Linked DNA regions of Homo sapiens: region 1 is linked to region 2. The links come from fine-mapping of genetic effects on gene expression. Tissue or cell type: whole blood. Region 2 holds a variant in brackets; the other region holds the start of a gene. All regions are shown on one strand. Distances are from middle to middle.

What was found. PIP is the estimated chance that this variant, and not a neighbour inherited with it, causes the effect.
Region 1: YEATS2 starts here. The variant in region 2 is fine-mapped to the expression of YEATS2 in whole blood (TOPMed, PIP above 0.99).

What each region holds. Positions count from the first base shown.
Region 1 is chr3:183,692,791-183,700,887 of GRCh38, forward strand. It overlaps YEATS2 (YEATS domain containing 2), which reads left to right and starts at 5,007. Exons shown (of 31, transcript NM_018023.5): 1 at 5,007-5,203. RefSeq lists a silencer at 4,912-5,381.
Region 2 is chr3:183,961,443-183,969,545 of GRCh38, forward strand. ABCC5 (ATP binding cassette subfamily C member 5) reads right to left here. Exons shown (of 30, transcript NM_005688.4): 12 at 6,253-6,324; 13 at 3,935-4,059; 14 at 3,743-3,815; 15 at 1,943-2,146; 16 at 69-212. Among named protein-coding and RNA genes, the nearest start is that of ABCC5-AS1, 41 kb to the right of the region's middle. The variant G/A (reference allele first, on the strand shown) is at 4,912.

The DNA of each region.
Region 1 (8,097 bases), 270 kb before region 2:
AGGCGGATCACGAGGTCAAGAGATTGAGACCATCCTGGCCAACATGGTGAAACCCCGTCTCTATTAAAAATATATTTTAAAAATTAGCTGGGCGTGGTGGCGCGCGCCTGTAGTCCCAGCTACTCGGGAGGCTGAGGCAGAAGAATCGCTTGAACCCAGGAGGCGGAGGTTGCAGTGAGCCGAGATCACACCATTGCACTCCAGCCTGGGCGACAGAGCGAGACACCATCTCAAAAAATAAATAAATAAAATAAAATAAAGTAGGAATGATAATAATAAAGTTGTTACAAAGATTAAATTTGTGAAGTGCTTGGAGCACTGCCTGGTAAGTAGTGTTATTAATAGCTAATATCCAATTATAACAATGTATGGGCTGGGAGCGGTGGCTCACGCCTGTAATCTCAGCACTTTGGGAGGCCGAGGTGGGCGGATCACCTGAGGTCAGGAGTTCAAGACCAGCCTGGCCAACATGGTGAAACCCCTTCTCTATTAAAAATACAAAAATTAGCCGGATGTGGTGGCATGCGCCTGTAATCCCAGCTACTCGAGAGGCTGAAGCAGGAGAATTGCTTGAACCTGGGAGACAGAGGTTGCGGTGAGCCGAGATCGTGCCACTGCACTCCAGCCTGGGTTACAGAGCAAGACTTCATCCCCCCAAAAATAACAATAAAATAAAAAATAACAACGTATGGCCAGGTTACCACAGTTTCTGATTTTCCATAGAAGCAGAAATTCAGGGTATTATGTGAAATTTGTCAGTGTTTGAAATGTTGGCTCATTTAAAACAAAATGTGACATCTGTAGGCTGTGACTACGCAATCTCTCTGAACTGTACTCTTTCATGGCAACCTCACCAGTGTTCATTAACTACCTGTTGACAACAGTACGTTGACAGTGCCACCCATCAGGTCTCTTCTGAGCCCCAAAGCCTTATGTACAGATTTAATATCTTCAGGGCTAGGTGTGGTGGCTCATGCCTGTAATCCCAGCACTTTGGGAGGCCAAGGCAGGTGGATCACCTGAGGTCAGGAGTTCGAGACCAGCCTGGCCAACATGGTAAAACCCCGTCTCTACTAAAAATATGAAAATTAGCCGGGTGTGGTAATACACGCCTGTAATCCCAGATACTTGGGAGGCTGAGGCATGAGAATCGCTAGAGCCCGGGAGGCAGAGGTGGCAGTGAGCCAAGATCGCACCACTGCACTCCAGCCTCGGCAACAGAGCGAGACTCTGTCTCAAAAAAAAAAAAAAAAAAAAAAAGTATTCGAGTGGATGCCTCAAACTTAAAATGCCCCAAAGGGAATTCTTGATTCTCCCACCCCCAACATTCAAATCTGTTCTTCCTTTAGTCTCCCTCCTTTCAGGAAATGACACCATCATCCACCATCAGCCACTGCTGGAAACGTATGAGCCAACCCCAGTTCTCCCTCCAGGCCCACCTCCAGTGGCTGTGCAGGTGAGTGCTGCCTAAGGGAGCCTGGCTAGCCAGGAGCCTAAAACCAGCCTCTAAACACTTGCCAAGCTCCAGAGCAGAGCTGAGTCTGCCTGGAGGAAGGGGCAGTTTATCTAAGAGGCCATTTTGACTTAGCAGAGGCCAGTCCCCTTCCCTTCTCTCCCCAGTCTCCTCCCAGTTCATCGTCATCAAGTCTTCTGGTATTTTCTCCATAGTTCTTGTATCTATCTCCTTCCCACCATCTCCACTGCCAGGGTAAGCCATCCTCATTTTTTTTTTTTTTTTGAGATGGAGTTTCCCTTTTATTGCCCAGACTGGAGTGCAATGGCACGATCTTGGCTCACTGCAACCTCTGCCTCCTGGGCTCAAGCGATTCTCCTGTCTCAGTCTCCCGAGTAACTGGGATTACAAGCCACCACGACCAGCTAATTTTTTTGTATTTTTAGTAGAAACGGGATTTCACCATATTGGTCAAGCTGGTCTTGAATTCTTGACCTCAGGTGATCTGCCCATCTCCGTCTCCCAAAGTGCTGGGATTACAGGTGTGAGCCACCACGACCAGTGCCACCCTCAATTTTTGCTTGGATGACTGAAATTGCTTTCCAACTGTCTCACTGCTTCTATGTTCACACACCTCTTCAGTCATTCCCCACCTACTCATTGGGGCAAATGATTTTTTTTTTTTTTGAGACGGAGTCTCACTCTGTCACCTAGGCTGGAGAGCAGTGGCATGATCTCGGCTCACTGCAACCTCCACCTCCCAGGTTCAAGCCTCCAGAGTAGCTGGGATTACAGACATGTGTCACCACGCCCAGCTAATTTTTGCATTTTTTTTTTTTTAGTAGAGATGGGGTTTCACCATGTTGGCCAGGCTGGTTTCGAACTCCCGACCTCAGGTGATCCACCCACCTTGGCCTCCCAAAATGCTGGGATTACAGGCGCGAGCCACCGCGCCCAGCTGCAAGTGATGTTTTTAAAAGGGCAAATAGGCTGGGTGTGGTGTCTCACGCCTGTAATCCCAGCACTTTGGGAGGCTGAGGCGGGCAGATTACGAGATGAGGAGATCGAGACCATTCTGGCTAACGCAGTGAAACCCCGTCTCTACTAAAAATACAGAAAATTAGCCGGGCATGGTGGCACGCGCCTGTAGTCCCAGCTACTCGGGAGGGTGAGGCAGGAGAATCACTTAAACCCAGGAGGCGGAGGTTGCAGTGAGCCAAGATCATACCACTGCACTCCAGCCTGGGCAATAGAGCAAGACTCAGTCTCAAAAGAAAAAAAAAAAGTTTCATTTTGGTGAATATTTGGGTAAACAGTTCAAAGTTGTAGTCTTATCAGAACTTTACCCTTCTTCCCCTTGACTTCCCAAGGCGGCCTACAGGATACAGGGGAAGCCTCAAGGCAGCGGTGGGAGGGGAGATCTGTGTGCGGGATTTCAAGCTATAGCCTGGGTTCTCACTGGCCTCTGCTGCTATGTCTCTGGTGACTTCTGGTCTCCACTGCCCTGCAGGCATCAGCTGCTGAGGTGGTTGGTTGGCAAGCTCATGACCTGTTGCTTTAGCACCTTCAGAGTTTGATGTCTCATCTTTCATCCCCACTCCTCCATCCCCGCTCCTCTCACCAGCTGACTTAGGGGTGCTTCAGCTCCACTGGTATCTTCAGTACTGCCTATCCTTGGGGTCTTAGCTACGTTCTGTAGCCATTCCCTGGCCATCAGCCCACCACAAGGCCTCTGCTTTAGGAAACCTGCCCCCTGGCACAGTGCCTATTGGTCTGTCCATGGCTCTTAACCATGCTACTTTCTGCATGCCAGGCAGGGAGCAACAAGAGAAGTCTGGAATTCTGACATACCTAAATGTGCAAGCTGCAGCGCTCCAGCAGCACTATTGCAGACTCCTCCCAACGCCATGGCCTGCTCCCAAGCCCTACTGTGTGAGCCTTCTCACAGACTTGGACAGCCTTCCAAGCTACACCAAGGGAAGTCAGCTTCTAGCTTTCTTGGCACTTATCTGGGTATTTCTATGCTTTCCACCTCACTGTTAAACCCTAAGAGTAGGGGAACACCAACACACTCATCCTGACCTGTGACCTCACCCCCTTCTCCATGAAATTTGTTTATCTCCCCAGTTCCTATTATCTCTTGAGTCTTAGCTTAAGGTTCAAGGAAGCCTTTCTTAGTTTTTTTTTTTTTTGAGATGGAGTTTCACTTTTGTTGCCCATGTTGGAGTGCAATGGCTCACTGCAACCTCCACCTCCCGAGTTCAAGTGACTGTCCTGCCTCAGCTTCCCAAGTAGTTAGGATTACAGGCATGCCCAAATACACCTGGCTAATTTTTGTATTTTTAGTAGAGACGGGGTTTCACCATGTTGGCCAGGTTGGTCTTGAACTCCTGACCTCAGGTGATCCGCCCGCCTCAGCCTCCCAAAGTGCTGGGATTACAGGCATGAGCCACCGTGCCCAGCCAGGAGGATCTCTCGAGCCCGGAAGTGTGAGACTAGCTGTGGTGATAGTGAGACCTGTCTAAAAAAACCAAAATTAGCCTGGGGGTGGTGGTTCACGCCTGTAATCCCAGCACTTTGGGAGGCTGAGGCGGGTGGATCACCTAAGGTCAGGAGTTCGAGAGCAGCCTGGCCAACATGGTGAAACCCTGTCTCTACTAAAAATACAAAAATCAGCCAGGCGTGGTGGCGCGCGCCTTGTAATCCCAGCTACTTGGGAGGCTGAGGCAGGAGAATCGCTTGAACCCGGGAGGCGGAGGCTGCAGTGAGCCAAGATCATGCCACTGCACTCCAGCCTGGCAACAGAGGGAGACTCTATCTCAAAAAAAAAAAAAAACACAAAAAACAAAACACCACTTATATTTATTATGCGTTGATAAAAACATTAAATACATTAAAAATTTGGTAACATGTATGTAAAGTATAAAAAAAAAAGTGAACTTCCTAAACCCACCACTCAGCTCCAGTAGTAAATCGTTATACAGTGAGAAGGGATTGAAGGGGAACAGAAGTTCCCCAAGACCAGTTGGGAGGCTATTCATAGTCTTGGGCAGAGAGATTACAGGGTCTTGGGTAGGGTGGTAGAGTTACAACGAAAGAGAATGTTGGCCTCAAGTGATATTTAGGTGGAAAACTGGACTTGGATTGTCACTAGCTAGTGTGACTGAGATAAGTCTCAAGCCTTCCCTGCCTCAGTTTCTTCATCTGTAAAATGGGCTAGAAATAACTACTGTTATTTTGTATACCCAGCACTTAGCACATGGGTTGGCACAAAGATGGCACACACAAACATCATAGTCACTATTGTGATTAATAGGGAAGCTCATACACGCCGGCAGAATGAATATTCTGTCAAACTTGGGGTTGAAATTCGCCATCTTCTGGGGCAGGAAAGTGATGGACGACTGTGCCTTTGCAAGAATCGACGCCCACACTGCCCAGGAAGTGCCCTCGCGGGCCGGGGTCCCAGCCCGGACCAGCCCCGCCCCGCCCCGCCCCGCCCTCATCCCTGGGAGCTCCGCCCCGAGGCCGCGCGCGCCGCCGCGCGCGCCCCGACGCGCCCAGCTGCTGACGTGCGGGGCGGAACGCGCCGGGCGGGCTCCACCGCGCCGTGTGCTTCCGCAGGTTGCGGGGGTCGCTGGGGCCTTGTGGCGGGGCAGCTCCGCGGGGCTTCGCCCGCTCTCTCACCTCGCCGTGCTCTCTCGCGGCGGCCGGCGGGGCCCGCGCTGCAGCCGGAGACCCGGAGAAAGGGTGAGTGTTGGCGGGCGCAGGAAGGGACCGGCCGGGAGCGCGCCCCGCTCTCCGGGGCATTGTTTGGGCGGGGGCGGCGCGGGCACGTGCGCGCCCCTCCCCCATCGGCAGGCAGCGCGGCAGCGGGACCCGGTGAGGCCCCGGGGCCGAGGGGAGGGCAGGGAGGATCCCAGGTGCGGGCCGGGGAGCCGCAGAAGCGGGAGCCTGGAATTGGAACGTGAGTTGGGGGCTTCCTCTTCAGCGGGGCGCTGCGCTGAGGGGATACGGGACCCCGAGCCACAGCGGCCGGAGCTTTTAGGATGTTAAGCTCTTGGCCTTGGAGGCAAGATTTGGCCCCAGCACCAGAAAGTCGTGGGTTTACCGAAAGGATCCTGGAATGCCCCTCCAACCTGTCGCCATCCCCACCGGGCCTCCCTGGGATGGAGGGGAGGGGTCAGAGAGGCTTTGGGGGTCCAGGGATGGGGCCGGGGCCAACGCGCCGGAGCTGCGGGCAGTGCGGGGCGGAGTGGAAGCCTCGGAAAGTGAGGACTCCTGCAGGAAAGGCTGGCTTGAAGGGCTGTGGCCAGACTGCAGAAGACAATGAGGTTTTCTCCATCATGAATGTGATTATGTTAAGAAATAGAAACCAGAGGAAGAGAAATGCCATCAGCAATCTTACAGGCCTGACACATCATTTTTTTTTAGTTTGATGTTGGCTAGTATTTTCATCTAAGCATTCAGCAGTTACAGAGTTGACCCACGTTTTCCATTCCCTTTTCTCGCTCACATGTAAAAAATGCGGTATAATATTATATAGAATTCAGCAATATCATTTCCCCTTTCTTAATGAGTAGAGGGTATTCAGCGTAGAAAAATTTAAAAATACAAGCAAAGCCAGAGAAAAATGCCCGCAGTTTTACGATCTAGAGATACTACCCTTGGATGTATATTCCTGTTTGTGTATACTCTTTAAAAGATAGGGCAGATGATGCCCTGATAAGGAGTTTAGTTTTTCCCGGGAAGCCTTTGAAGGTTTTGAGAAGGCGAGTAGCATGATCCGACTGCTATGTAGAGGAAGAGGGCTGGGGAGGAACCTACGAGGTCAGTTACTGTGCTCTTTGCAGTAGCTTGGACTAGGCCCGTGGCAGGGAGATGGGGAAGTATAAACAGATTTTTAAATGTTTTAAGGTAGAATGAACAAGACTTGGATTGGTGAGGGAATGGTGGGAATCTTTGCTTTTTTGATTTTTGTTTTGAGCAACTGAGTAGGTGGTGGTGCTGTTTACTGAGATGAAGAATGGAAGAGAGAAATTTGAGGTGGGAAAAACGAATTCTATTTTAGATGTATTAAATTTTAGATGCATGTTAGTTATGAAGTCGGTGTGTTGAGGCAGTTGGATGTAGAGGGCTGGAACTCAAGGAGGAGAGAGGCTAGAGCTAGAGATAAAAATCTGGGAGTGGCTGGGCGCGGTGCTCACACCTGAAATCCCAGCACTTTGAGAGACCGAGGCGGGTCGCTTGAGCCCAGATATTCTAGACCAGCCTTGGCTACAAGGCAGGAAGGACCCCGTCTCTTAAAAAAAAAAAAAATTGGGAGTGATCTGTACGTAGATGATATTCAAAGGTATGGTGCTGTGTGAGATCACTGAGGGGAAAGAGTGTGGAGAAGTGAAAAGGGCGCAGACACTCAAATACCTCTAGGTCTGGTAGAGGAAGAAGGTTGGGGAAAGGACGCAGGAAACAGCAAGTGAGGTAGGAGAAAAAGCTCCTACCAAAATGGCATGTATCATGGCAGCCAAAAGAGGTGTTTCTGGAAGATGTTGAATTGGTCCTTTTATCAGGGCTTCTGAGATGTTCATTAAGATTGTCAATTGAATTTGGCAACACGGTGGTTATTGGTTTTGGTCATTGGTCTTCCTGTCCATAGTTCTGGAAGTGGGAGGTGGGAACCGGATGTGAGGAAATGAAACTAATGAGTGCAAATTAGAAAAAAAGTGCCCCATTTCCATCTGCCCCAAAACTAAACTTAATCGATGAAAAATGGTGTCTTGTGTTTTTTTCATTTATTGATTACTAGTATGTTTGAACATTTTTTTCCCATTTATTGGCTGTTTGTGAATTTCTTTTCCTGTTCTCTGTCATCTTTTGTTATTTCCTAATTGATTGTCAAAAGTTCTTTAGATATTAAAAATAGGTAGCTTGACATACAGCATGCAGAGTTCTCCCCACATGTTTCTCAGTTTCAAATGCTTCATGTTCATTCAGTGGATGCATGATATTTTACTGTGGGTTATTTTTTATTATAAAATCCATAGGAAGAAGAGAATTAACATTTAGGTTGTAGATCTCTGAGTGTAGCCCACATACGATGTACATTACCCTGTATTTTCTTAGAATAGATTCTCAGAAATAGTTGGTCCTGTCCTCTTCTCATCAACTACGGATTTTTATTTGAATGTTCATTGCCACGTTCTTGGATTGTTCCCTATCTCCCTGCCTTTGGTCCTGCTCTGCTTTCAGTCTGTTTTCTGTCGTGATACCCAGTAGATGGTGGGAGTTGATGCAGTTTTCTCACAGAAAACAAGACTTGTGAAGCAGATTTTTTCTTTTTCTTTTCTTTTCTTTCTTTTTTTTTTTTTTTTTTGAGACAGAATCACAGTCTGTTGCCCAGGCCTGTAATCCCAGCTGCTCGGGAGGCTGAGGCAGGGGAATTGCTTGAACCCGGGAGGTGGAGGTTGCAGTGAACGGAGATCGCGCCACTGCACTCCAGCCTGGGCGACAGAGGGAGACTTCGTCTCAAAAAAAAAAAAAAAAAAAAAAGGCAGATACAAAAAGCCACGTGCTGTATGATTCTATTTATACGAAATGTCCAGAAACAGGCAAGTTTATCCACACAAAAAGTAGTTGCCAGGGGG
Region 2 (8,103 bases):
CACTCACTCCGGCTGTGTTTCCCTTGCAGAGACAGAAGGGGACACACGCAAACACCATCAGATCTTACCTCAACTGGCGGTGTCTCTCCCAGCAACAGGTTATTAAAAATGGTAGCATAGTCACCATTTAAATTCATCAGTTCCTCATGGGTGCCTCTTTCCGTAATACAGCCCTCTTTCATGAAGATCACTTCATCACAGTCAACCAGGTACTGAAGGCAAAGGCAGAGACAACACAATATGCTGTTTGTGCAAATACATTCAAAAACCCATACATTAGTTCAGTAGTTCTCTACAGGAGACGAGTTAAGCTCCCAGAAGACATTTGGCAGCATCTGGAGACATTTTTTTTTTTGAGGCAGAGTCTTGCTCTGTCGTTCACGCTGGAGCGTGGTGGCGCAATCTCGGTTCACTGCAATCTCCGCCTCCTGGGTTCAAGCGATTCTCCTGCCTCAGCCTCCCGAATAGCTGGGACTACAGGCATGCAGCACCATGTCTGGCTAATTTTTTTGTATTTTTAGTAGAGACGGGGTTTTGCCGTACAGGTAATCCGCCCATCTCGGCCTCCCAAAGTGCTGGGATTACAGGCCTGAGCCACCGCGCCCAGCTGGAGACATTTTTGGTTGTCACAACTCGGGGGAGAGGTACACAGATGCTCCTCAATTTACAATGGGCTTACATCCTGATAAACCCAACGTAAATTGAAAATATCAGAGCTTAGCCTAGCCTACCTTAAACATGCTCAGAACCCTTACATTAGCCTACAGTTGGGCAAAATCATCTAACACAAAGCCTATTTTATAATAAAATGTTTAATATCTCATGCAATTTTTTTCAATACTATGCTGAAAGTGAAAAACAGAATGGTTGTGTGGAAACCATCATAAAGTCAAAAAACTGTAAGTTGAACCGTAAGCCAGCGACTGTCTCTACTGGTATCTAGTGGCTAGAGGCCAGGGGTGCACAAAGCAGCCCCACACAACAATGGACTATCTGGTCCAAAACATCAGTGGTGCCAACACTGAGAACCCCACTTCAGTGTATTGTGCCTCGTGACATAGTATAAGGAGCAGTTCCTCCAGTTTTTTTCTTTTTTTTTTTTTTTTGTGACAGAGTCTTGCTCTTGTTGCCCAGGCCGGAGTGCAATGATGCAATCGCAGCTCACTTTAACCTCCACCTCCTGGGTTCAAGGGATTCTCCTGCCTCGGCCTCCTGAGTAGCTGGGATTGCAGGCACGTGCCACCATGCCTGGATAATTTTTGTATTTTTAGTAGAGATGGGGTTTCACCAGTTGGTCTCGAACTCCTGACCTCAGGTGATCCGCCAGCCTCAGCCTCCCAAAGTGCAGGGATTACAGGCGTGAGCCACTGTGCCTGGCCGAGTCCCTCCGGTTTTTCACATGAATCTGCTGATGGAGCCACATGAGCCCTGCATTAAATTTACACCCTTTCACTGCACTCACAAATATACATAATTATGACTTTCTTTGGCAGAATGGAGGGTTTGCCCCCTAAACGTGACAACATATGTGAGCCAGATGGCAACATCCTTGAGCTGCTCTCCAAAGTGCCTGCTTATGATGGAATGGCAGAGGGAGAAAAGCTTGTTTTCCCAAAACAGTTCCCACTTGCATAGAGATGTTAACACAATGCTTTCCAAACTATCTTATACCCAAACTCCATTTTTGGCCTGCTCCTCTCAGCCCTTTTACTTGCTGATCTATATGCAGAAGCTGATATGCTCCAAGGATCTCTGATTTAGATGGCCATCTGTTACACTGGTACAGTGAGCTTTATTGGTACAGGGGGCTAATTTGCTAAGAAAATGAAACCTTGATTCCAGGAATTTCTAGTTATAACACAAGGATACCTGGAGCAAACCTACCTCCCTGTTTCTGATTTCCCAAACTCAGGCAGGCAGCCGAGGGAAGAAAGAACCATACCTGTAACTGGTGGGTAACAAACAGAACTGTCTTGGACTTGAGATGTTTCCGGATAGCACTATTGAAGATGTGGTTGCCCACATGGGCATCTAAGGCACTGAGGGGGTCGTCCAGGATGTAGATGCTCCTGTCACTATACAAGGCCCGGGCAAGGCTGATCCTCTGGCGCTGCCCACCGCTCAGGTTGGCTCCTCGCTCTCCAATCTACAAGAGCCCAGAAGTGTGGTGAAGCCTCCAGCGCAAGTCCAGAACAGCGTGGAGGGGTCACCCAGTCACTTCTCTTCTTGCCCACCCAGACCAGCTCCTTCTGTCAATTCCCCGCAGATGAACTGCCATGCTGATTCCCCGCAGATGAACTGCCATGCTGATCCTTCAACGAAGTGGGGGAGTTGGCCCAGATGCCTCTTCCTCTACCACTGCCATCTGGGTACCGATCAATCCTACATCTGGTCTTGCCAGTCCACCCGGATGCTCCCCCTCCAATCCATTCTCCACATGGCAGGAAGATCTTTCCAGAACACAAAGCTGACCATCTCCCACCCTTGCTTAAAATTCTTCAAGAGCCTCAAAGGATAAACCTTGAGTATCCAAACATGGCATACAAACCAGACCCTTTGTCACCCAGTTCCCCAGCAGTTCTCAGCCTCCAGTGCACAATCCCCCTTCCACATCCTGGGACCTAAGCCATTTGAAATTATGTGTATACTATGAACATGACAATGTCATGTGCTTGCCTCTACTTTGTCTGCTCAGTTCTGGCATCATCTCCTCTGAAATCTCCCCCAACCTCTTTCCCGCTAGTACCCCAAAGAGATGGGGCTCTTTTCATCAGATTATTTTGTGCCTATTTGTTTGGGTATCTCATCCTCTTAACTGTACACTTCTTTACGTGCAGATTATTGTCTTATTCCTTTATATTCTTAGTGCCAAACAGTGTCTGCACATGTCACTGGCACATAATAAACACCTAATAAATGTTACTAAATGATTAAATGAATAAATCAGTTGTCAAATATTCAATTAATTCAGAGGTTTTCAAACTGGAAGTTGCATCAGAATTACCTGCAGGGTTTGTTAAAACAGACCTTTGCGCCCCACCCCTAGAGTTTCTGATTCAGTAGGTCTGGAGAACAGCCTAAGAATTTGTGTTTCTAACAAGTTCCCAGATGATGCTGATGCTGATGCTGCTGATCTGGGGACATGGATTTAAGGACCTCTAAAGTAATTAAACCATTCACCAAATCTGGTTTGAGGGATTTAACTGAAATCAGCTAAATAAAGGTGCCAATCCCAGAGACCTTCAGGGCAATTCATGGGAGACAAGTTTTAACACTGAAGAGCACAAATTAGTTCCAAAGACAAGCCTCTGGAAACTGCTGCAGGGCAGAGACCCAAAGAAATGTGGATTTGTTCTAAGGGCTCTTTCTAATAGAAAAGGGCTCTCTACAGACTATCTGAGTTAAGGAGGTTGGCAAAATCAAGTTCAAGGAAGATGCTCAACATGCACACGCTTACTTGTAGTTTTAAAAATATCTGGATAGAATAAAAAACATCAACTCTGAGTCAACAATGGGATTTTGTTTACAATCCCCAAGACACAGAAAATACTTACAACCTTAAAACAAGCAGTGTTAACATCCCTGCCCTAATGGACACATGCTTTCCTAACACAAAGGCCTAATGACAGCCTAACTCCCTGTGAGGCTCTTCTCCCAAGCATTTCAGTTGCACTCCCAGGAGCAGCTCTGGCCCAGCTCTGCCACTCTGCTAAATGCCTGGTCAGGGGCGGAAGGCCTGTACCTCCGTCAGGTCGCTGCTGGGAAGAATGGCCAGGTCAGGCCTCAGGCAGCAGCTGTTCAGCACAGAGTTGTATCTGGAGGACACAAAGAGACAGCGTCAGGGACACGGCGGGAGCAGAGCCTGCTGACTAGGGCTGCCTTGCATCTCACGCGGCCAAGATGGAAAGCATGACAGAAGCCAAACATTCCTTGCCTTTCTTCATCATATTCCTTCCCAAACAGGATGTTGTCTCTCAGAGTAGCATTGAGGATCCAGGCCTGCTGGGCCACATAAGCGAAGGTTCCACTGATTGCAATGCTGCCCTCTAGAAGCGTCATCTAGGGAGAGAGACACCATCCAATGGCATCATAACTCAAAACCATCACCCTATGCCAACGGAACCCCCACCTTCCACAATGGAATCTAGCTCTGGTAATTTCCCGGGATGCTTTTTGGACCCAAATCCAGATTCCACCTTTAATTCCAAAGAGAGCTAAGCAGCAAAGAAAATCAAAGTTCTCCTTGCTTATGTGTGATGGGAGCTCAGCATAACCCATAACTTGAAGGCAAACACTTCCCTCTGCAGCCCATTTGCTGTGTGCAAACTGTTTAAATTAGGAGAAGCACAAGCAAGAGGTTCTTGCAGAATTCTCCTGGAGAGGATGCTGTAGGGGTTTCCAGCTAATCCCTGCCTCAACATGGGGGCAGGCCAACTCATCCAAGGCAATTACCTAGGATGCTGGCTAGACCAGTTGCTTCTATGAAATGAGGACCAAGGGAAAAAAAAAGTCCAGGTTAGACATCACCTAGTATTTATAATATATACACAGTGTCCATTTACCAATGATGGACCTTGCCTGCCCACAAGCAGTGATGAACCATGTGCTTTGAAGTTTGTGTTCAGTTGCAATGGTTTGATATGAATTGACTTATCCATTTTACCCCCTTCCATGATTTCTTTTGTTTGGGACTGATAGTAGACATTTGTCTTGGTTTAGGGATGCTACAGCTTTGAAGCAAAGTTTCACTAACCAGCCTGTGCAGTACTTGTTCATATAAGCTGGTCTTCTCAAACACCCTCACACAGCGTGTACACACACAGGTGTACCTACGTACACCACAAACTGGTAGCATTCTGATGTGCACTTCAAAGGGTTCAGAAGTCCCCAGGGGGTCTACTGTGGAAAGCC[G/A]GCACTTCTGGCTGCTGCACAAACACCGCACATTGCAGCGCTATCAACAGATGTAAACTACAGTTAAAGCAGGGCTGACCAGCCCAACCCGTTTCCCTGCCAGAGACAGGGTTGCCAGGATTTGTCCAGAAGCAAAGCCTGACTTGGTTTTCAACCTAACCACTGCCTAGTCAACCCTGGAAAAAGGAGCACATTGCTAGATGGCAGAGCAGCACTTACGAATTGACCTTTTCTTTCCTTCTCCCCCTCCCCCCATCTCTGTCTCTCCTCACTGGCCCTCCAAATCTGGTTGGTCATCATAAATCACCTAGGAAGTCTGGTGCTTTTTACAAGACCAATGGCTGGGCCCAGCCACTGGAGAGTGTCATAAAGCAGAAGGTGGAGGTGATGCCTGCCATGATCTGACTCAGACAGCCCCAGGCACCACCACCCTCAAGGAGGACCACAACTCACCAACTGTGACAGCTGATGCCAAACAAGACAAGAAAGCATTCCATAATCTGGGGGCTACAAAAGCACCCCTGCTCCCCCTCTGTTTCATTTCAATTCAGTGGACCTTATCCATCAGGGTGTAGAGATAATCATAAGTTTATGCTCATCTCAACCATCTAAGTCAAGTTAATTTAATTCTAATGTAAAAGCATGTGGGCACCTTGTTTTTTTTTTTTTTCTGGATTGTTTGATTCTAAAACACAGCAATGATAGTGTGTCTCAGTGGGATGACTCCGGCCCCATCCTGTCCCTCACTCTCAGCACTGGCCACCGTGTGCTGGGCCCTGCACGCTGTTCACTCCCTGCCTGGAGATGTGCTTGTTGTGTTCTCAAGGCCTTGCTCCCCACTGGACCATGAACTCCCCAAGGGCATGACTCTTTCAGGGATTAGGCAGAAAACAGAGGGGCTTTGCTTCTAGATCAAACCCTGACAGTCCTGTCTGACAGAGAGGCTGGGAGTGCTGGCCGCCCTGCTTCTTTACAGGTTAACTCTGTTGGCAGCGCTGCAGTGTAGGGTGTCTGCTCATCTCTTATCTCTGACATTTTCAATACACGGGCATACCTGTGGCACTCAATAGATACATGCTGAATGAAAGAAGGCATGAGACCAAATGGTTCCAGCTGGGACAACAGTCAGTCATCCATCAGGCGCCCACCAGGCCTCCTTCCAGGCAGAAGGCTGTGAAGGGGGAGAACTGGGGGGAACTGCGGGGGATTGGGGGCATACAATGCAGGCTGAGGGTTCATTTGTTTCCACCTTTCCTGACTCTCCAGGAAATTTGTTCGTTTTTCCTGAGACTCTTGCAAACCAGAGAAAGCAGCAGAAAAGGACAATAACAAAAATCTTACCTGGCCTAAAATGGCTGAAATGAGAGAGGTTTTTCCACTTCCCACACTGCCACAGATTCCAACCAGTTTACCCTGGACAAGGCACACAGAGAGGAGGGTCATTTAGAGACTACTAACCACTCATCGCTAAGGACTTGAGGAAAAACACATTAACTGTAGTCTACCCATACAGAACTGTCACCCTGATGACTCAGCAGGCCACTTACCTGTTTTCTCACTCATTAGCTGCCTATCTCATGGGTTTCTGTGGAGACACCTGAGATAACAGGAATGGAAGCCCTTTGGGGAAAGTAAATATGCCGCACACATTCCAGTATCCCACCGTCATTCTTAGGCCCAGCCTCTTTCCTATTCTGCTGCTAACCCATGTTCTTCATTTACTTGTTTTTGTCATTTTTTAGAAGACAGGGTAGGGCTTTTAAAAATCATTTTATTATTATTATTATTATTTTGAGATGGAGTCTTGCTCTGTCAACCAGGCTGGAGTACAGTGGTGCGATCTTGGCTCACTGCAGCTTCCGCTTCCGGGTTCAAGCAATTCTCCTGTTGGGGTTACAGGCATGCACCACTACACCCAGCTAATTTTTATATTTTTAGTAGAGACAGGGTTTCGCCATGTTGGTCACGCTCGTCTCAAACTCCTGGCCTCAAGTGATCCACCCACCTCGGCCTCCCAAAGTGCTGGGATTACAGGCATGAGCCACCACGCCTGGCCACCCATATTCTTTATTTACTTGTTTTTGTTGTTTGCCAGAAGAGAGGGCAGGACTCTTAAAAATCATTTTATTATGATTTTTCTCCAGGGTGTATACATAATTAATTTTCAATAAAAACCATGGACACTGTTGCATGCAAAACATTTCCAAAAATCTGAGGAATATTTATACCATCAATCCCACAAAAAAGTAGAACACCAAGTCTATGATTAACTGAGTATCCTTAGGCAAGATAAAGAGTTCTCAAAGTGGTGTTGAAAGTTTTCAAGGGACAGACAGATGACTTCAAAAGGGTCACTTGTTTACAACCCCGTGCCAGTTCAAGTGTCCCCAGGAAGGAAGGGAGAGTGGTAGTGTGGACGGAGCATGGATTCTGGAGGCAGATGGGTCTTTATCTAAATCCCAACTTCACTAGCACTTGCTAACTGTGTGATCCAGGCCCCGTGACTTAACCTAATACTGTGTCTGTCTCCTTCTTTGGACTCTGAGCACCTTGAGGAAAGGCAGTATCCTCATAAAACTAAGTACAGTGTCTGATAGTTGAACAAATAGTTTTTGACATGGTCCACGAGTACTGAATGGTTTACTGCCTGGTGGCAACAAGGAGGTCAAGTCACAGGTTCAACCTCTGCTCAGGCCAGTTAGATTTACATGAGAAAAATGCTATTCTTATGATTAAATGATGACTAAATGAGACATCAAAAATGAGAAAAATGCCTGGTGCACAGAAGACACTTGGCAAACATTACCTCCCCTTCTCTTCCCTAAAGCAAAGGCCCAGGGAGAATTAAGGCATCTCTCTTCAAATGGCTAAAGGTCTCCCATTGTCTGTGGGCTCTGAAGGGCAAAATGAGGGTCAACATACAAAGCAAAAGAATACATTTTAGCTGCACGTGTGGAATCATTTTCTAATAGAGCTGATAGCAATGTATTAGAGCTGCCTCAATAATCAAGCTAATAGTTACTAAATAAAAAGCCTGTTAGGCGTTAACTGAAGTAAGGCCAGATGCAGCAGCTCACGCCTATAATCCCCACACTTTGAAAGGCCAGGCAGGCAGACCACCTGAGGTGAGGAGTTCGAGACCAGCCTGGCCAACATGGTGAAACCCCGTCTCTACTAAAAATACAAAAATTA